Regions from separate parts of the Homo sapiens genome. Here regions 1, 2 and 3 are each linked to region 4. The links come from fine-mapping of genetic effects on gene expression. A gene starts in region 4. Each other region holds a variant in brackets. All regions are shown on one strand. Distances are from middle to middle. Region 1 overlaps GTF2H1 (general transcription factor IIH subunit 1). Region 2 overlaps HPS5 (HPS5 biogenesis of lysosomal organelles complex 2 subunit 2). Region 3 has its middle 3.0 kb from the start of SAA1. Region 4 holds the start of HPS5 (HPS5 biogenesis of lysosomal organelles complex 2 subunit 2).

What was found. PIP is the estimated chance that this variant, and not a neighbour inherited with it, causes the effect.
Region 1: its variant is the best candidate, but not a certain one, in a credible set for the expression of HPS5 in CD4 T cells (BLUEPRINT, PIP 0.87).
Region 2: its variant is the best candidate, but not a certain one, in a credible set for the expression of HPS5 in whole blood (GTEx, PIP 0.64).
Region 3: its variant is the best candidate, but not a certain one, in a credible set for the expression of HPS5 in whole blood (GTEx, PIP 0.80).

The regions. Positions count from the first base shown.
Region 1 is chr11:18,361,994-18,367,139 of GRCh38, forward strand. It overlaps GTF2H1 (general transcription factor IIH subunit 1), which reads left to right. Exons shown (of 15, transcript NM_005316.4): 15 at 3,790-5,052. The coding sequence ends at 3,876. Among named protein-coding and RNA genes, the nearest start is that of MIR3159, 23 kb to the right of the region's middle. The variant T/TA (reference allele first, on the strand shown) is at 3,077.
Region 2 is chr11:18,278,141-18,283,277 of GRCh38, forward strand. HPS5 (HPS5 biogenesis of lysosomal organelles complex 2 subunit 2) reads right to left here. Exons shown (of 23, transcript NM_181507.2): 22 at 3,810-4,080; 23 at 536-1,802. The coding sequence ends at 1,742. Among named protein-coding and RNA genes, the nearest start is that of SAA1, 14 kb to the left of the region's middle. RefSeq lists enhancers at 4,453-4,512, 4,553-4,612. The variant A/G (reference allele first, on the strand shown) is at 2,228.
Region 3 is chr11:18,260,731-18,265,879 of GRCh38, forward strand. It overlaps the pseudogene ST13P5. Among named protein-coding and RNA genes, the nearest start is that of SAA1, 3.0 kb to the right of the region's middle. The variant T/G (reference allele first, on the strand shown) is at 2,112.
Region 4 is chr11:18,319,438-18,324,586 of GRCh38, forward strand. HPS5 (HPS5 biogenesis of lysosomal organelles complex 2 subunit 2) reads right to left here and starts at 2,703. Exons shown (of 23, transcript NM_181507.2): 1 at 2,509-2,703. It overlaps GTF2H1 (general transcription factor IIH subunit 1), which reads left to right and starts at 3,130. Exons shown (of 15, transcript NM_005316.4): 1 at 3,130-3,303. RefSeq lists enhancers at 2,201-3,150, 2,288-3,487, 2,378-2,677, 2,688-3,107.

The DNA of each region.
Region 1 (5,146 bases), 43 kb after region 4:
GAATAGTACAGTCACGTGTTGCTTAACCACAGGGATGTGTTCTAAACAATTCATTGACAGACAGTTTTGTTGTATGAACCTCACAGAGTGTACTTAAAACCTAGCTATATAGCCTACTATACTTCTAGGCTATATGGTGTAGCCTGTTGCTCCTAGGCTACAAACCTGTACAGCATAGTACTGTACTAAATACTGTAAACAGTTTTAACACAATGGTATGTGTGTATCTAAACATAGAAAAGTTGCAGTAAAAATTCAGTATAAAAGATAAAAAGTGGTCCACCTGTAAAGGGCATTTACCATAAATAGAGCCTGCAGGACTGCAGGACTAGAAGTTGCTCTGGGTGACTCAGTGAGTGAATGTGAAGGCCTAGGACATTACTGTACACTACTGCAGAGTTTACTAACACTGTACACTTAGACTACATTAAATTTACAATATAGCTTTTTTTCTTCAATAATAAATTAGCCTTAGCTTACTATAACATTTTTACCTTATAAACTTTTAAATATTTTTAAAGTTTTTCATTCTTTGGAATAACACTTAACCTAAAACACCCATTGTATAGCTGTACAAAAGTATTTTCTTTGTATTCTTATTCTATAAGCCTTTCTCTCTCTCTTTCTCTCTCTCTCTCCCTCTCTCCGTATAGATATATATATTTTTTCTTTTTCTTTTTTTTTTTTTTTTTTTTGAGATGGAGTCTAGTTCTGTCGCCCAGGCTGGAGTGCAATGGCATGATCACAGCTCATTGCAACCTCTGCCTCCTGGGTTCAAGCGATTCTCCCGCCTCAGCCTCCCGAGTAGCTGGGATTACAGGCACCCACCACCACGCCCAGCTAATTTTTGTATTTTTAGTAGAGACCGGGTTTCACTGTGTCGGCCAGGTTGGTCTCGAACTCCTGACCTCGTGATCCACCCACCTCGGCCTCACAAAGTGCTGGGATTACAGGCGTGAGCCACCACGCCTGGTGCCTTTTTTCTATTTTTAATTTTTTTTTTCTTTTTAAACTTTTGTTAAAAACTAAGACACAAACACACATTAGCCTAGGCCTACACAGAGTCAGGATCATCACTATCACTGTCTTCCACCTCCACATCTTGTCCCACTGAAAAGTCTTCAGGGGCAGTAATGCACATGGAGCTGTCATCTCCTGTGAAACAATACCTTCTTCTGGAATACCTCCTGAAGGACCTGCGTACGGCTATTTTACAGTTAACTTTTTTATATATATAAGTAGGAGTACACCGTAAATAATGATTTTAAAATACAGTAAATAGATAAACCAGTAACATATTCATTATCATTATCAAGTATTAGGTCCTATACATAATTGTACATGCTATACTTTTATACAGCTGGCTACTTAATAGGTTCGTTTACACCAGCATCCCTACAAACGAGTGAATAATGTGCTGCTGTATGATGTTACGACATCACTAGATGATGGGAATTTCTCAGCTCTATTATAATCTGATGGGACCGCCATCATATATGCACATTATGTGGCACATGACTCTAGTTACAAATTTAAGATTCAGTATTCAATAAGTAGGATAAATAAAAGGGGAGTTTTACAATTGAAAGCTGAAAAATCATCAGCAAGATTTTTCATATTTATTTCCTAAATATTCTAAGTGGGTTTTCTTAAAATACAAAACAGCATTACTTATAATCAGATAGAAGCTTGGAGTGTCTTCTCACAGCAGGGCAAGGATGGCAGATAGGTTTCAGGTCATGTGCCTTCTCAATTGATTATAACTGCTTGGAGTGCTGTGTTGGAAAGGATGCTGAGGGCCAGGCGCGGTGGCTTACACCTGTAATCCCAGTACTTTGGGAGGCTGAGGCGGGTGGATCACCTGAGGTCAAGAGTTCGAGACCAGCCTGGCCAACACAGTGAAACCCCATCTCTACTAAAAATACAAAAAATTAGCCGGGCGTTGTGGCAAGTGCCCCTAATCCCAGCTACTCGGGAAGTTGAGACAGGAGAATTGCTTGAACCTGGGAGGCGGAGATTGCAGTGAGCTGAGATCGTGCCATTGCATCTAGCCTAGGCAACAAGAGTGAAACTCCATCTCAAAAAAAAAAGAAAAGGATGCTGAGGCCATGCATAGCCTTGCAGAAGGATATGGTGTTCATGTCTTCCAATTGATAATATAGATACTGCTGCCCATCAAACAGAATAAGTAATTTTTATAGTTTCCAGACAGAGCTAAATATTACTATCCCCCATAATGATAAACAGGTATGGCAGTAAGGGTAATTTTTTTAACTCTGTACCCCTCAGACCTAAACATTGACATGCCAAAGGAATTTAGGACTTCCTGATCTCCATCTCCATCCTCCCAGACTTGGCAAAACTTTACTTCTAAACACATAAACACTGTCCACCTCCAAGGAAACATATTCCAGAGACTTCTACCTCAAAAGTCAGTATAAGCCAGATGCGGTGGTATGCACATGTAGTCCCAGCTACTCAAGAGACTGAGGCAGGAGGATCACTTGAAATCAGGAGTTTGAGACTATAGTAAACTAAAATTGCACCTGTGAATAGCCACTGCACTCCAGCCTGGGCAACGTAGTGAGACCATGTCTCAAAAAAATAAAAAAGATTCCATATGATCCTGTTGACTTCTAGCTATGTCCATGATGAGGGCAAAATTCTTAATCTACTCAAAGATCTATAGTCCTGACCCAAGACATGACATAGCACATTGTGTGAAGCATTGAAACCATTTAGGTTTTCTGTAATCTGCTGAGTTGTATTGAACTCCTGAAATGCTGGAGTTGGAAAAACCCTAAAAATAGCAAACTGTTTCACAAAATTATGCAGAATTAACTGCAGGAGCTTTTGAAAATCAAAGATTCTTGGGTCTCATCCCAGGCCTGTTGAATCAGAATCTTCAGGAGAATAAGGCATTTTTCCAGTGTTCTGCCAAGATGTATATACGGGGCTGGGCACAGCAGCTCACGCCTGTAATCCCAGCACTTTGAGAGGCTGAGGCAGGAAGATTGCTTGAGCCCAGGAGTTCGAGACCAGCCTGGGCAGCATAGCAAGAGTCCATCTCCACTAT[T/TA]TAAAAAAGAAAAAAAAAAAAAACCTGGCCGGGCATGGTGGCTCAGGCCTGTAATCCCAGCACTTTGGGAGGCTGAGGTGGGTGAATCACTTGAGGCCAGGAGTTCAAGACCAGCCTGGCCAACATGGTGAAATCCCATCTCTACTAAAAATACAAAAATTAGCCAGGTGTGGTGGCTCATGGTTGTAATCCTAGCTACTCGGGAGTCTGAGACATGAGAACTGCTTGGACCTGTGAGGTGGAGGCTGCAGTGAGCCAAAATCACACCATAGCACTCCAGCCTGGGTGACAGAGCAAGACTCTGTCTCAAAAAATAAAATAAAATAAAATAAAGTTTATACTACCATCCTGGCCTTAGTTGGCTGACCAGTATTCAAATCTAGAAAATCACAGATATAGTTCAGACCCCTCGTTTGACAGAAGGAATTGAGGCCTGGAGCACAATTGTGACTTTCATATTGTCCTATTATTGGTTAATGACAGGACAGCCATTACAACCGCAGCCTTTTCACTGCCCCCTACTTTCTGTCTTTCCTTTCCACACAAAATGTGTCTGACAGCACCTTCTCAGAGGGCTTGCACATTACCTCATTGACTGGGGAAATACAGAGGAGCTCCGAAACTACACTCTGAAGTGTGTGCCAGATTTGGGTTGGAAGGATTAACTTCCCCTGCTTTTGCCCAGTTGTTAAGTGTCTTGCTGTGTTTTTCAGTTGGTAAGTCACATAGAAGAGATGCTCCAGACAGCCTACAACAAGCTCCACACATGGCAGTCACGGCGTCTGATGAAGAAAACGTGAGGTGGCCATGATGCTTACAGGTTTTGTGAGATTGAGAGAACTATGACCTGCAGCAACTCTGGAAACCTGGCCTGACAGACAAGCAGATGACCTCACAGGAGTGATAAGAAACATCTGCTCCACGCCAACTCCCAGAGCTGATGCTATTGTACTTGCACATTGGAGACTGAAAGGAAAGAAGGGACTAAATGCTGGGGAGGTAAATTAAGACAGAACCAAATGAGCTAAGTTGCAAATATATATATATACACACACACACATATATGTACATGTGTATGTACATATATATTTTAAAAGACTGTTTACTGCAGTTGCTCAGGAACTGCTTTTGATTCACATTAAGCTGCTTTCAGAAATTAAAAAAACACTTTTTAAAGGGTGCATTGATAAAATCTGAGGTTTTTTGGTTGTCGTTTTTTTCTGTGTACATTTTTTTCCTAAGTTTATGGCACAGGGTAGACCTTAAGTATTCCTCCTCCATCCTTCATTCTTCACCCTCCATTGGATCCTCAAGTTTTAATGAATTCCAATTATACCTTACATCAGCAAGTTAAAAAAAGTACTTTAAAATAAAGCAAAGGGAGACTGTTGCTCAACCATCAGGAAACAGTTGTCAGAAGACATCATTGGTTCTGTGTTTCCTACGGAAATAAGAAACGATAAATATTGCACTGAATGTTTGTGGTTTGGAGTCCCTGAATAATAAAGAGGGAATATATTTGCAGAAAGTCGCATAGGGTTTTTTAATGCAGAATTTTGTCAGAAGACAATGGCGCTGCATGTTTTTCTTTGAGTGCAAATGTACATTGCTAAGATTTTTTTAAGATGGCATGTGCTTTGAAAAGAAGATATTGCATTTTTAAGAGTTTAAAAATCTTATGAGTGAGAAATATTAAAAAAATCTTATTTTCACCTCTTTAGAAGAAATAAAAGATGTTTCTCCTATCTCCTTTTCTCTAGTATTTGACTGTTACTGTCCTTGGCGAATCGATAATCATTGCATAGTGACTGAAAAGCCTAAGTGCAAAAAAAAAAAAAAAAGATGTTCTTGTTTCTGAACTTCGTGCCATATTTTGTTCCTGATGGGATCAACTTAATGTTTAAGACTTTAGATGTCTTGTATTAAAAATTACACAAAAAAAGTAAAACTTTTTATACTTACCCTTTTAACTCTAACACATCTCTGGTTTCTCATTATGTGTGAATTTCCTTGGGTGGGCTGCCTGAGAACTGTTCATTTTATTTTAGGCCATGTTACAAACTGGTTATC
Region 2 (5,137 bases), 41 kb before region 4:
TCACCCTTATCTCAGTATAGATGCACATTTCAACACAATCCAATATGGCCAAAAGGCAAATTATGCTAGTGGGAAGGTTTTCCATACTTCCCGGAATTCTAAGAATTCTCCTTTCCCTGACAATCTCTCTTTTTTTTTGGGACGGAGTCTCACTCTGTCGCCCAACCTGGAGTGCAGTGGCACGATCTTGGCTCACTGCAAGCTCCGGCTCCCGGGTTCACGCCATTCTCCTGCCTCAGCCTCCCGAGTAGCTGGGACTACAGGCGCCAGCCATCATGCCAGGCTAATTTTTTTGTATTTTTAGTAGAGACGGGGTTTCACCGTGTTAGCCAGGATGGTCTCGATCTCCTGACCTCGTGATCCACCCGCCTTGGCCTCCCAAAGTGCTGAGATTACAAGCGTGAGCCACCGCGCCCAGCCGACAATCTCTTTAACCCATATGGTTGCATCATATCTAGGAGTAATGTGTAAGTTTAACAGTGATTTGTGTCCATATTCTCTGGTTATGTTATAAATGCAAAAAAGAGTTGAATTGTTCAGTGCATCCAACACTTTACTTACTCCACACCTTTCTGCAAAATGCTCATAATAAACCTCCTGTCTACATTGTGTTCCAATGAAAACTTTAGTCATATTTTACATTTATTATTAATATAACATGCTATGTAAATGTACAGGAGCCTGACAAATGACAATCTACTTACATAATTTAAATAACACAAGTGCTTGCTGCAGTCTTTATTAGTACACAGCTTTGTTATGGCTTCTTAGAAATAATTTTAAAAAGTGCATGATTCTTGTGGGCTACTCTGTTTAGGAAAGATTACAGATAACACATTTCTAAGAATGAATTAGTCAGCTGTATATGGGTTCAGATTAGAAAATATTAAATAAATACAGGGAAAAATATTTTTAATTAGCTTAATTTATATATGAAGATATTTTATTTAATTTGTTTTTGAGACAGGGTCTTTCTCTGTCACCCAGACTGGTGTGCAATGGCACAAACACATCTCATTGCGGCCTGGACCTCCTGGCCTCAGGTACTATGCCTAGCTAATTTTTTTTATTTTTTGTAGAGATGCATTCTCACTATGTTGCCCAGGCTGGTCTTGAACTCCTGGCCTCAAGTGATCCTCCCGTCTTTACCTTCCAAAGGGTTGGGATTACAGGCCTGAGCCACTGCACCCAGTCCCATTTTACTTAAATATCAAATTCAAATCTTCAGTGTTCTACTTATTTTGGGTGTTAATTCCATTATACACCGTCTTATTTCAGTAATTTCCATATTGTGCCAGACAAGATATAAAAATAATTCAACTCCAGTCAATAATACCATCTGTCTTCATGTGACCAGGATGAAAAGCTTCTGCTCCCAACATGGAAGCCACAGTAAGAAAAGAATCTGTCTAATCCACTAGCAACAAGCAGTTAATACTGTAGTTCGGAATAATACTAGGACATTAACATTCTAATTCCAGCAAACAAGGACTGACTCTTTTCAAAATTCAACTTTGGTTAAGAAATGCTGAGTACAACTTTGGTTAAGAAACACTGAGGTCATGGATAAAGAGTCACAGATGCCGATGCCAAGGGTACAGACACTGACAAAAGTAGCCCCAATAAGATGGCAGGATTTGGGGGTGGTGTCTTTCCTTCAATAACAAATGCGTTCAGAAGGTTCAGGAGCATGATTTAGTTTTTCTCAAAATGTCATGACATCCTGCTGAATCTTCTCCCACTAGGCCTGCTGGGACCAGAGAAACCGATCGCATTTTTCAAGCATGCTTTGTATCAAGGCCCTGAAATCCCAAAGAAAAGAAACAAGCAAATTTAGTTGTCATTGTTCATTCTTCACAGAAAACTTAAAAACTACAGAGTTTCAGAGGATTCAAAAAGTTGACTGATTCTGTGCATTAAAAGACACAATGCACAGAGTGAAAAGGCAACCTACAGAATGGAAGAAAATATTTGCAAATCATGTATCTGATAAGAGGTTAATATCCAGAATATCAGAGAACTCTTACAGCAACAACAACGAAAACACCCAACCTGATTCAACATGGGCAAAGGACTTGAATAGCTATTTCTCCAAAGACAATTATATAAATGGTCAATAAGCATATGAAAAAATGCTCAACATCTCTAATCATTAGAAAAATGCAAATCAAAACCACAATGAGATATATAGTACCTGACACCCACTGGGATAGCTACTGTTTAACAA[A/G]AAACAACAACAGAAAATGACAAGTGTGGGGCTAGCACATGGAGAAATTGGAACTCTTGTGCACTGCTGGCAGGAAAGTAAAATGGTGCAGTCTCTACAGAACAGTATGGTGGTTCCTCAAAAAATTAAAAATAGAATTACCATATGATTCCAGAATTCCACTTTCAGGTATATACCCGAAAGAACTGAAAGCAGTGTCTGGAAGACATATTTGTATACTCATATTCATAGCAGCGTTATTCACAATAGCCAGAAAGTGGAAGCAATTCAAGTGTCTGTCAACAGATGAATGGATAAACAAAAGGTGGCATATATATACAACGGAATATTATTCAGCCTTAAGTAGAAAGGAAATCCTGACACATGCTACAACATGGATAAACCTTTAGGATGCTATGCTCAGTGAAAACAGGCTGGTCACAAAACGACAAATGTATTAATTCCACTGAGATGAGGTATGTAGAATAGTAAAATTAATAAAAACAGAAAGTAGAACTGTGGTTGCCAGGGGCTAGGTAGAGGAAGTAAGTTGCTGTTTAATGGGTGTGGAGTTTCAGTTTTGCAAAATGAAAAAGTTCTAGAGACTGGATGCAAAACAATATGAATAACTTAATACCACTGAGCTGAATATTTTTAAATTGTTAAGATGATAAATTTTATGTGTATTATACCACAAAAAAAAATTACTGAGACATTAGGTATCTGGTACCAGTAATTTTTTTTTTTTTTTTCAGAGTTTTGCTCTTGTTGCCCAGGGTGGAGTGCAATGGCGTGATCTTGGCTCACTGCAATCTCTGCCTGCTGAGTTCAAGCGATTCTCCTGCCTCAGCTTCCCGAGTAGCTGGGAATTACAAGTGTCTGCCACCATGTCCAGTTAATTTTTTTGCATTTTTTTTTTTTTTTTTTAGTAGAGACAGGGTTTCACCATATTGGTTAGGCTGGTCTCGAACTCCTGACCTCAGGTTATCCACCTGCCTCAGCCTCCCCAAGTACTGGGATTACAGGCATAAGCCACCGTACCCAGCCAGGTACCAGTAATTTTTTTGTTTTTGAGATGGAGTCTCGCTCTGTCACCAGGCTAGAGTACAGTGTCATGTTCTTGGCTCACTGCAACCTCCACCTTCCGAGTTCAAGCGATTCTCCTGCCTCAGCCTCCCAAGTAGCTGGGACTACAGGCACGTGCCACCACACCCAGCTAATTTTTGTACTTTTTTTTTTTAGTAGAGATGGGGTTTCACCATGTTGCCAGGATGGTCTCAATCTCTTGACCTCATGATCCGCCCACCTCGGCCTCACAAAGTGCAAGGATTACAGGCGTGAACCACCACGACCAGCCTGGTACCAGTAATATTTTTAAAGAATCAAGGACACATCAGATTATTCAGGTTAATCTGAACAGCATCTTGGTCATGGCTGTGAATGAAATATTACTTTAGCCTCTTCCCTTAATTACCACATCAGTCTCAGTCTCCTCATGTTAGTGATGGGTCGGGACTAAATGATCTCCACATCTACATCTGAAAGTCTGTGGCCTTCTACCTTCTCCAAGCACTATGCAGAGGGTAGGACAAACTGATATTACCTCTGCCTTTTCTCAGCAATCCTCAGGATATCGCAGGTTCTGGTAAACTTCTCTGACAACTCAAGGGCCAGACCACATTCCTGTAGCAGTGACCAAGCCCGATCTGGGCCCATGGCCTTAGCTAACAGAAGTGCCACATTCTCCACATTGATGGGGGAAGGCCCATCACTGAGGCTCCCATTTAGTGACTCCTGGGGGGCTGGCCTCGTGCTCTTGCTCTGTATGAGATGAAGGAGAAGCTTCCATTCCTCCACGGTCTCTGGGATCCAACCTAAACACACACAGGGAAGTGTCAGTTTGACCACTCTTAGCACACTGACTGGATACAGGAGATGGTCAAAACTGTGAAAATGTTTAATGCCAAAACGTAAAAATATTCAAGAACACAATCTCATCACCCTAACACAAGTTGTTTTCTGAAAATTTGTTGTATAAATTGTTCATGAGAAAGAGAAGCCACAAAATTAACTTTAATTTTTTTCTTTTTTTTTTTTAAAGAGAGACAGGGTCTCACTACCATGTTGCCCAGGCTGGTCTTAAACTCCTGAGCTCAAGCAAGCCTCCCACCGCAGCCTCCCAAAGTGCTGGGATTACAGGCATGAGCTACCACACCTGGGCAGCTTCAGAATTCTTTCAACCACTCAGTAATTACCCAGGGCATATCCTATGCTAAGCACTGGATATGTAATGATGAACAGAAGAGACACAATCCCTGTACTCTTGTGGAGCCTACAGTCTAGTATAGGAGACAAAACTTAAACACGTAAGTATATACTTATAAAGTATGCTAAGCACTATGAAAAAAAAGAACAAGGAAGCATCAGAGAGAATGGCTGATTCTGCCTGGAAGATCTGAGAAGGGCTCTATGAGGAAGTGACATTGAAGCAGAAAGCTAAAAGATGAGACAAGCTTAGAGGACATATGCATGGGGCCCACATAATGTGAAAACTTGGAGTAGGAGCCATCAGAAATAAGGGGCCTGCATTTCTGATAAAGGAAACATGGAAGACAATGTGACACAGGAAAGAACTTGACGAATTCAAGGAATTTTTCTTTTCCTTTTTGTTTTGAGACCAAGTCTTGCTCTGTTGCCCAAGCTGGAGTGCAGTGGTGCGATCTCAGCTCACTGCAACCTCCACCTCCCAGGTTCAAGCAATTCTCCTGCCTCAGCCTCTCAAGTAGCTGGGATTACAAGCATAAGCCACCATGCCCAGTTAATTTTTGTATTTTTAGTAGAGATGGGGTTTCACCATGTTGGCCAGGCTGGTCTCAAACTCCCGACCTCAGGTGATCTGCCCACCTCGGCCTCTGAAAGTGCTGGAATTAC
Region 3 (5,149 bases), 59 kb before region 4:
ATCTGCACAAGTGATTTCCAAACAGGAAGATTTTCAAACACTGATTCCTGAAGATCACCCCCAACTCGCTGAACTGAGACCAAGACCTCCAAGATTATGGCTTAGGAATCTGCATTTTTTTTTTTTTTTTGAGACAAGAGTCTCGCTCTGTTGCCAGGCTAGAGTGCAATGGTGGAATCATAGCTCATTGTAACCTCAAACTCCTGGGCTCAAGTGATCTTCCTGCCTCAGCCTCCCAAGTAGTGAGGACAACAGGAGTGTGCCACCATGCCCAGCTAATTGTTAATTTTTTGTAGAAATGGAGTCTCACTATGTTGCTCGGGCTGGTCTCAAACTCCTGACCTTAACCCATCCTCCGCCTCCGCCCCCAAAAGTGTTGGGATTACAGGTGTGAGCCACCGTGCCCAGCCTAGAAATACCCACTAGAAGCTTCTGTGTAGACAATCTGCTTAGTGATGTTTGGAGACAAAGTACCTCTTTATTGTATTCATTGACAAAACTCTCCAGTCCTCTCCCATCTTCATGGAAAATTTTCACAGTTCATTTACGGCCCTCTTTCCAACACATTCACTGCCAATACTCTTATTGACAATAACTGTATTGTTGAACCTTCCAGTATCCTGCATTCCCGGATCAAGGCCCCCTCAAAGCCCTGATATGCAAATATCTGGGAAAAGAATGTTCCAGAGGAAAGGAACAGCTAATCCGAGGCCCCTAGGGTAAGATGTGCCTGGGGGTTTGGAGACCAGTGTGGCCAGAGCAAAATGAGCAGGAGGAGAGAATTGGATGATGAGGTACGAGAGGAAGGAGTTAGGACAGTTTGAGTAAAGTTTGAAAACCATTATAAGGGCTTTGACTTCAACTATGAGTGGAAGTGGAATCCTCCGGAGAGTTTTGAATGGAGAGTGATAGAAGTTGTCTTGTGTTGTAACAGTCTGGCTGCTATACTGAAAAGAGACTAGTTGGCGGCAAAGGGGGAAATGTGGAAGCCAGTTAAGAAGCCATCATAACCCAGAAGGTGATGCCTAATAACATCTCTCTGGGAGCAGCGGAGAGATGATAAGGGTTTGCCTTCTGAATATGTTTTTTGACAATTAATGTAAACATTTCAAGTAGGCTGAGATTTTATTGCATATTAACAATGTCCATGTTCACTCGCGGCAGCCGCCCCCTTCTGCGCGGTCATGCCGAGCCAGCACCTGGGCCTGGAACTGGGCCGCAGCCCCCAGCTTCACCCACCACCTCCCTACCATGGACCCCTGCAAAGTGAACGAGCTTCGGGCCTTTGTGAAAATGTGTAAGCAGGATCCGAGCGTTCTGCACACCGAGGAAATGCGCTTCCTGAGAGAGTGGGTGGAGAGCATGGGAGGTAAAGTACCACCTGCTACTCAGAAGGCTAAATCAGAAGAAAATACCAAGGAAGAAAAACCTGATAGTAAGAAGGTGGAGGAAGACTTAAAGGCAGACGAACCATCAACTGAGGAAAGTGATCTAGAAATTGATAAAGAAGGTGTGATTGAACCAGACACTGATGCTCCTCAAGAAATGGGAGATGAAAATGTGGAGATAACGGAGGAGATGATGGATCAGGCAAATGATAAAAAAGTGGCTGCTATTGAAGTCCTAAATGATGGTGAACTCCAGAAAGCCATTGACTTATTCACAGATGCCATCAAGCTGAATCCTCGCTTGGCCATTTTGTATGCAAAGAGGGCCAGTGTCTTCGTCAAATTACAGAAGCCAAATGCTGCCATCCAAGACTGTGACAGAGCCATTGAAATAAATCCTGATTCAGCTCAGCCTTACAAGTGGCGGGGGAAAGCACACAGACTTCTAGGCCACTGGGAAGAAGCAGCCCATGATCTTGCCTTTGCCTGTAAATTGGATTATGATGAAGATGCTAGTGCAATGCTGAAAGAAGTTCAACCTAGGGCACAGAAAATTGCAGAACATTGGAGAAAGTATGAGCGAAAACATGAAGAGCGAGAGATCAAAGAAAGAATAGAACGAGTTAAGAAGGCTCAAGAAGAGCAGGAGAGAGCCCAGAGGGAGGAAGAAGCCAGACGACAGTCAGGAGCTCACTATGGCCCTTTTCCAGGTGGCTTTCCTGG[T/G]GGAATGCCTGGTAATTTTCCCGGAGGAATGCCTGGAATGGGAGGGGACATGCCTGGAATGGCCGGAATGCCTGGACTCAATGAAATTCTTAGTGATCCAGAGGCTCTTGCAGCCATGCAGGATCCAGAAGTTATGGTGGCCTTCCAGGATGTGGCTCAGAACCCAGCAAATATGTCAAAATACCAGAGCAACCCAAAGGTTATGAATCTCATCAGTAAATTGTCAGCCAAATTTGGAGGTCAAGCATAATGCCCTTCTGATAAATAAAGCCCTGCTGAAGGAAAAGCAACCTAGATCACCTTATGGATGTCGCAATAATACAAACCAACGTACCTCTGACCTTCTCATCAAGAGAGCTGGGGTGCTTTGAAGATAATCCCTACCCCTCTCCCCCAAATGCAGCTGAAGCATTTTACAGTGGTTTGCCATTAGGGTATTCATTCAGATAATGTTTTCCTACTAGGAATTACAAACTTTAAACACTTTTTAAATCTTCAAATATTTAAAACAAATTTAAAGGGTCTGTTAATTCTTATATTTTTCTTTACTAATCATTGTGGATTTTTCCTTAAATTATTGGGCAGGGAATATACTTATTTATGGAAGATTACTGCTCTAATTTGAGTGAAATAAAAGTTATTAGTGCGAGGCAAACATAAAAAAAAAAAGTCCATGTTCATCTCTAAATGACATCATTGTTCCAAAGCTTTTCCATTCTTCTTAACCTTCCACCTGTCAATCTATAGGAGATGACTTCTCCTACTTCACTCATGCATTGACTCCTTCAATCAATAAAAGTGACTAAGAACCTGCTACAGGTGAGGTGCTGTGTTTGGTGTTAAAGTGACAACAGTTATCTGTCAATAAGCCTGACAAGGTTCCTATCCCTGTGTTTTGTGCACTCTGGGTCAAACTCAGAAATGCAAACAGGTGGAGAGCGATGAGTTCTATGACTGGTAAAGAAAAGGGCCTGCTGGTTTCCCTCAGGATCTCTGTCCTTCATCTCAAAATGCATCTTCCTTGTTATCGTTCCTCTCCTTCCTGTCTCAGAGGAAGACCTGCTCCTGCTACACTCTGGGCAACCTTGTCCCCGTGGCCCTGTGGCCCCTTGGTTGTTGAAGTCTATGTTATGCCCTATCTTTTACCCTCAGTCACTCTCTCTGTTAACATTCTCCCTGTGCCCTGTAACCCTCCCTCATCTTTAAATAAATCCTCCTCCTTTGACCTTCGCATGTATTCAGTCATGCAACTCAACAAGCATTTATTGCACAGTGATATTCAATTTGCCACTTGCTAAAAGTCTGAACCTTGGCAGCTGAATGTGATCAGAAAAAAAGCACGACTGCTATGACTAGTCTCACTTTAAATTCATGGTCGTTGACCAAGAGCTACCATACAATCCACTACCTTTCTCAAGTTCAGTCACATTCTTCCTTTCCTAGATGTCTGCTTTCTACTTCTCTTCTCTTCTGAAACTTCCCACAACTCCTCGTTCATTCTCTTCTCAGTTGACAACTTTGCTTCCTATTTCACTGAAAAATAGAAGCAATCAGATATGAACTTCTGGCTGGGCATGGTAGCTCATGCCTATAATCTCAGCACTTTGGGAGGCCAAGGCAGGAGGACTGCAGGTTAGGAATTTGAGACCAGCCTGGGCAACATGGTGAAACTCCCACTGTACTAAAAATTTTAAAAATTACTCAAACATATTGGCAAACAACTGCAGTCCCAGCTACTTGGGAGGTTGAGATGCAAGGATCACTTAAACCTGGGAGGCTGAGGCTGCAGTGAGCCATGATTGCACCACTGCACTCCAGCTCAGGCAACAGAGCAAGACCCTGTCTTGAGAGGAGAGGAGAAGAGAGGAGGGGAGGGGAGGGCAGGGGAGGGGAGGGGAGGGGAAGGGAGAGGGGAGGGGAGAGGGGAGGAGAGAGGGGAGGGGAGGGGAGGGGAGGGGAGGGGAGGAGAGGAGGATCAGGTGAGGAGTATGCCAAGGAGTGTTTTTAAGACTTACTGTTTTCTCTTTCCCAACAAGATTGTCATTTCCTTTAAAAAGTAGTTATCCTGAGGCCTATATTCATAGCATTCTGAAAGAAAGAAAAGAAAAGAGGAAAGAAAGAGAGAGGAAGGAAGGAAGGAGAAAGAGAGAGGAAGGAAGGAGAAAGAGAGAGGAAGGAAGGGAGGAAGAGAAGAAGGGAGGAAGAAAAGAAGGAAGGAAGGAGGGAGGGAGGGAAGGGAGGGAGGGAAAGAGGAAGAAAGGAGGGAAAGAAGGAAGGAAGAGAGAGAGGAAGGAAGGAGGAAGAGAGAAGAAGGAAGGAGGAAGACAGAGAGGGAGTAAGGAAGGAAGGAAGGAGAAAGAGAGAGGAAGGAAGAAATGAAGGAAGGAAGGAAAGAAAGAAAAAATAAAAGAGTGAAAACGGACTGGAGAAGAAGAAACCACAGTTGCTGCTATATCCACCAGCCTCTCTGCATGTCCTGGCCTCAGCCCTGCTGGGCTCTGGTACTGACCACTTCCTTCCTTCCTAATTTCCTAATTGACTAGGCCAGCTGAGCAGGGCTTTTCTGTGCTGAGGAGGTAAATCTCTGGATATCTAGACTGAGGGGTGGAAGGAGCCTTCCAGGGCACACATGAGACATGGCAGGGGTAGGCTGCTAGTTTTATTTTGTTTTCTTTTAGACACAGGGTCTTGCTCTGTTAACCAGGCTGGAGTGCAGTGGCGTGATTATAGCTCACTGCAGCCTTGACCTCCTGGGTCTCCCACAATCCTTCCGCTTCAGCCTCTTGAGTAGCTGGGACTGCAGGTGCACACTACCACACCCGGTCCATTTATTTTTATATTTCGTAGAGACAAGATCTTACAGTTTTGCACAGAGTGATCTTAAACTCTTGACCCCAAGTGATCCTCCTGCCTTGGCCTCCAAAAGCATTGGGATTATAGGAGTGAGCCACTGTGCTGGACCTAGTCTGTCAGCTTTGAAGCTTTAGATATGAACTCAGAGGGACTTCATTTCAGAGGCATCTGCCATGTGGCCCAGC
Region 4 (5,149 bases):
AAGGGTAGCAGGTAGGGTAGCAATAAGCAAATATATAGAGAAGAAAAAAATGCAGAATATACTAGAAGAATACAAATTTAGTCTTTGGTTGAAACAGGATACAAGCAACGGAATAATGAAAGATAAAGCTGGAATCTTAATTTGGGCCCAAGTTACAAAACACTTTGAATTTCAAACCAAAGAACCTGAACTTAACTTGGCAGGCAACAGAAAGGAATTGAAGAATTGTGTGTTGGGAGGTCACACAATTTCTGTAAAGTGCTGTGGGTGGTTAGATGCTAGAAAACAAAGACTTGAGAAAACGGGTGGGTGATATGAAAATGAGGATAAAACATTTCAATTACTCAAGAAGTCTGGTGGAAAAGGAGAAAACCTCTCTTGACGTTATTATTGGGGAGACTCTTCAACAGATTTGTAGGTAGTAGCTAAAAGTAGAGTCTAGAACGAAAGGGACTGAAGATTCAAGAAAAAGATAAAACCATGGTACAGGATCCAAGAGATGGAAAGGAATGATAATATCATAGTGTCTCTTCTACTTGTGATCTTGAAACAAAGAAACTCTGAGTAGGTCATTTTGCCTTAATCTCGGTAAAAAGAGAATGTCCTGGAAGTTATAATATAATGCGGGGGTGTGCAGGGGGACACACCTAGTAAGTTCTACTGAAAAGAAAAAAAGAATTTAACAGAAATGAGAATGGAAAATAAAAACAGCATAAGCAATGCCAATTCTCAGAGAAGCTGCTGAATGACAGTGTTAAACCAACTTCAACTTTATACTTTATGTTTACTCTCCCTGAAATGACTGCTTCCCTTCCAGATTTTCTTATCCAAACATACCCAGCTTTCAAGATCGCACATGAGCCCTACTTCCTAGAATTCTCAAGATGGAAAAAGATTCATAGGTAATTCAGTGAACATGTCCACCTAATTCAGAAATTAGTTTTGCCCTAGATCCCTGAACATTTTCAGCCATGGAAAGAAAGCACTCACTCTCATGAAGCTGCCAATTCCAGTCCTCCAAAGGGCTCACTATTATAAGGTTCTTTTTAATACTATGCTGAAGCCTGATCACTTAGAGCTCTACCATTATTCCTAATTGTATGTAGCTTCTACAGCTGAAGGGAACAAGCTGTCTCTTTCCAAAACAATCCTTCTGTATTTGAAAAGCATTATCAGGTCTTCTAAAAATTTAACATTCCCAGTTTCTTCATCACTCCTGACATGACATTTTCCAACCCTCTGTTCCAGTCAACCTTCTACAGAGGCACTGTAGTTTGCCTAAAAATGAGGTGCCTAGAACTGAGCATAATACTCCTTAAGTAGTTAGATGAGCCCAGAATAGAGTAGAAACACTAACTTCCTGGATCTAGACACTAAGTTTCTATATTACAACCTAAAAACAGTATTAGTTGTGTTTAAGTGGCCATGTTACACATTGATTCAACAGAGCAAGTGGTCAACTAAAACCCAAAGAAATTGTTTACATAAATAAAATCTTCTTAGCCAGTAGCTACATACAGTAGAACTGAGCTCAAATTGAAAGCTGCTATTAATCAAATGCAACAATGGATATAAAAAGTACCTAGAAATGTACAAACAGTATAAAGAGGAACAGCAGAATGCTGATAATTGTTCAAGTTGCGTTAAGTGTACATGAGGGTTCAATTTATTATCCTACTTTTGTCTGCGTTTGAAATTTTCCACAATAAAATTTAAAAAATATATACATAATATTGTACAAGCCTTCAACAGCTCTATTTCTTGAAAATCTGTTATCTCCTCCCTGCTTCTTTTTCCAGCCTTATTTCCCATCTTAACCTCTCTATTCTCCAACTACATTGGACTCGACTCTTTTTTTCTTTTTCATTCCATAAACTTGCTGTGCCTCCATGGTTTAATATATGATGTTTATGGAATCTTCCCCCATTTACCAAAACCCTACCTTTCTGCAAAGCTGAGTTTAAATGTTACTTCTGTGAAGGCACTCTACCAAAAACTAAGAACATAGAAGTTGGCGACAAATGCTTAACCAAAGTAAATGAAACAACTTTTGGGAGACTGGCTTGCCCAAGGATCACAGAGTTCATAAATGGTAGAGCTGAGATTAGAATACGCGTCTCCTGAATCCAAATCTCATCTTTCCATTATCGTAAAATAGTTCAGTGTTTGTTGCTCACACATCAAATGCAAACATGTTTCTCTTTTGCCCCAGTAGGTGCGTGGAGGAAGAGGAGAAAGAAGTAAGAAAGATAGCAAAAATTGAAGAAATGAGAAGGGGAAGTTGCAGACTGCCTCATTTTCACAATGGGATCTTTCTATCCAAGAAGAAATGATCAGAAAACAACTCTCTGCCTCAGACAAATGGCGACTGACTCATTTATACATTCATTCATTCAACATTCTGAGTGCCTACTATGTTCCAGGACCTGAACACACCGCTAGAGACACAGGGATGAACAAAACACAATCCCTACCCACAAAAAGCTCCTTGCCTAGTGGAACTACTACCTTTTTAACAGCAGTAACTTTAATATCTTGAGATTTCTTGAGAGGAGACCCAGTAACCAATTTTCAAAGCCAGGCTCACAGACCAGCAGCCCGGAGGTCCCAGCCCAGCTCCACCACATCCAGGGCAGTACCTCGCAGCTCTCAGTAGATCGGATCTTGTCTCCCGGCTTAGCGCCGGGGAACTCACCGCGCACTAAGAGCGGAACGTGAACTTCAGTCTCCCCTCGCGTTCCTCCCCTTCCTTGCTGACGTCATCCAGGAGAGCCGCAGACTGGAAACAACGCTACTAACGGCACTTCCTCATCACGTGACGAGTCACGCCCCTCCTTCCGCGTGGTCCCTCCCCCTCAGGCCGCGGTCGCGATTACGCTCTCTACGGCCTGCGACCGCAGGGCCGTTGCGGGCTGGAGACACGGCGCCGACTGGAACCGGAGGAGCTCTAGGCCAAATGGTTGGGCCAGCCAGGATCCCAGGACCCTTCGCCGCTCGAGACCGGAGAGAGGAAACGAAACAGGCGGGAACCCGTGGGGGAGGGAGGGAACTAGCGGAAGGTGTCATGGCGGCCGCGCTCTTGAGTCACGTGCCCAGGGCCCGCCTTGCTACTTCCGGTCACGTGCCCTCAGACTCCTCGCAGCCAGCGATGGAGGCGAGACCCCCTAGTAACAGAGGCGGTGGCTACTGCTGCGGCCACTGGGTTTCGGCCTCTTCCCAGCAGCGGCTCTAAGAAGCGCAGCGGAACTCGACCGGATCCAACCCAGTTAGTTACTTCCTGTCTAGAGTTGTAGCTTCCACCTGGTAAGTTTAGACCGAAGAATGCAGGCGGGCGGGTGGGTGGGCGGGTGAGGAGCTGACAGGCCTGGGGGCCGCTGGACGGCGTGGATTCTACCCCTGTTCCCAGCGTCGCTGTCGCCGTCCTCCCAACGCCCAAGCCTGGCGTCTTGTTTGCCCTTATCCCGAGGCGAGGAAGAGGCGACCCCTAATCTACTTGTCTAAAGGAAACCTGCTCTTAAATTGAGAGCAGGTTTACCCAAAGCCAGGATCAGATTTGGCTTATGAGAATGAAGTGGAGGCCTCTCCCAGACAGAGAAGCCCTTCCCGTCAGGAAATGTGCTGTTGAGTCTGGGATTCTGTAAGAGAAAAGCTGTCACCTTGTTGTCTGCACACCTTTTGCTTCCACCTGTCAATCTTACCTCTCTTAAAAACCTTAACACGTGCCAGTCCACACACTCCTAGTTTTGGTCATTTGATTGTCGTGTAATGATGAAAAATAGACCATGAGTACCTGGATATATGTAATTATTTTGTAAATCCCCCAGTGTTCTCAAAGGCCAAATTAAATAAGGAGGTGACTTTTCTTATTTTTTTTTAAGAGACAGAGTCTTGTTCTGTCGTCCTGGCTGGAATGCAGTGGCGTGATAATAGCTCACTGTAACCTCGAATTCCTGGGCTCAAGCGATTCTCCTGCCTAGACCTCCCAAAGCGCCAGAATTATGCTACAGTGCCTGGCCCCAAATGACTCCTAAACTCCAATTTTAGCATCAGTAAAATGGGGATGGGGAAAGAAGATATGAAAAATACACCCTTTGTCCATTTGAAGACCCAGTCTTAAAAACAAAAACAAAAAAAAAACTGAGTGGTTTGAATGAAATGTGCTTTGCAGTGAGTATTGACTCCATACAAACCAATATCCAGACTTGTGATTTTCAAACATTTTAAAGGAGTGGAACAATTTCTCCCCATGAATTTTTATCTGGAACCCAATATATAAAGCAGCATGCTCTGGTGGAACTAAATTTAAAAGGGCCAGGCCCCACCACCCCACTTAACTTCTATCCTAGAGGCCACTCCTTGGAACACAGTTTGAAAACCACTGAACTGGACTTAGGTAATTAAGCCAAAGTTGCCAACCTTAAGATTTTTTAAAAGACAAAACCAGAGCAGTTGAGATGGAGAGGTCACAACCGCAGGGAAGGTAACCTCTAGTAGCAGGCCTTGGACTTAGAGAAGGACTAAACTCTGGAGAGAACTTTGTACCTGTTAGCAGGCTTAAGTCCCTCATTCAGAAAGGAGAAAAAAGAGATGGTCTGCTATCCTCACTCAGCCGACATTTTTTTTTTTTTTTGAGACGGAGTTTTGCTCTTGTTGCCCAGGCTGGAGTGCAATGGCGCGATCTCTGCTCACTGCAACCTCCATCTACCGGGTTCAAGGGCTTCTCCTGCCTCAGCCTCCCCAGCGGCTGGGATCACAGGCGCACGCCACCATGCCTGGCTAATTTTTGTATTTTTGGTAGAGACGGGGTTTCACCATGTTGACCAGGCCATTCAGCCGACTTGTAGCAGTGCAACAGATTGGTAAGTTTGAGTCTCTCTTAGGTGATATAAAATACACATTGCAGTACAAATGTGAAAAAAAATCAAAGCAAATTCAGAGAGGGCTTTTGAAAAATACTAGGAAACTTGGTGCAGTGTGGGAGAAGAATCAGTTAAAAGTAGTGAAGCCAGCGACCAGCACCAGTCCTGGGTTGTGAATGCTTCCTGTGTGTACTGCCCTCAAGGCTTGTAACTTCTCCCTGCTGGTACCATGTGTCCTGCCCTCTGATAACCTGCTTCTCTGTGCTATTTTATTCCCTACCATCAGAATG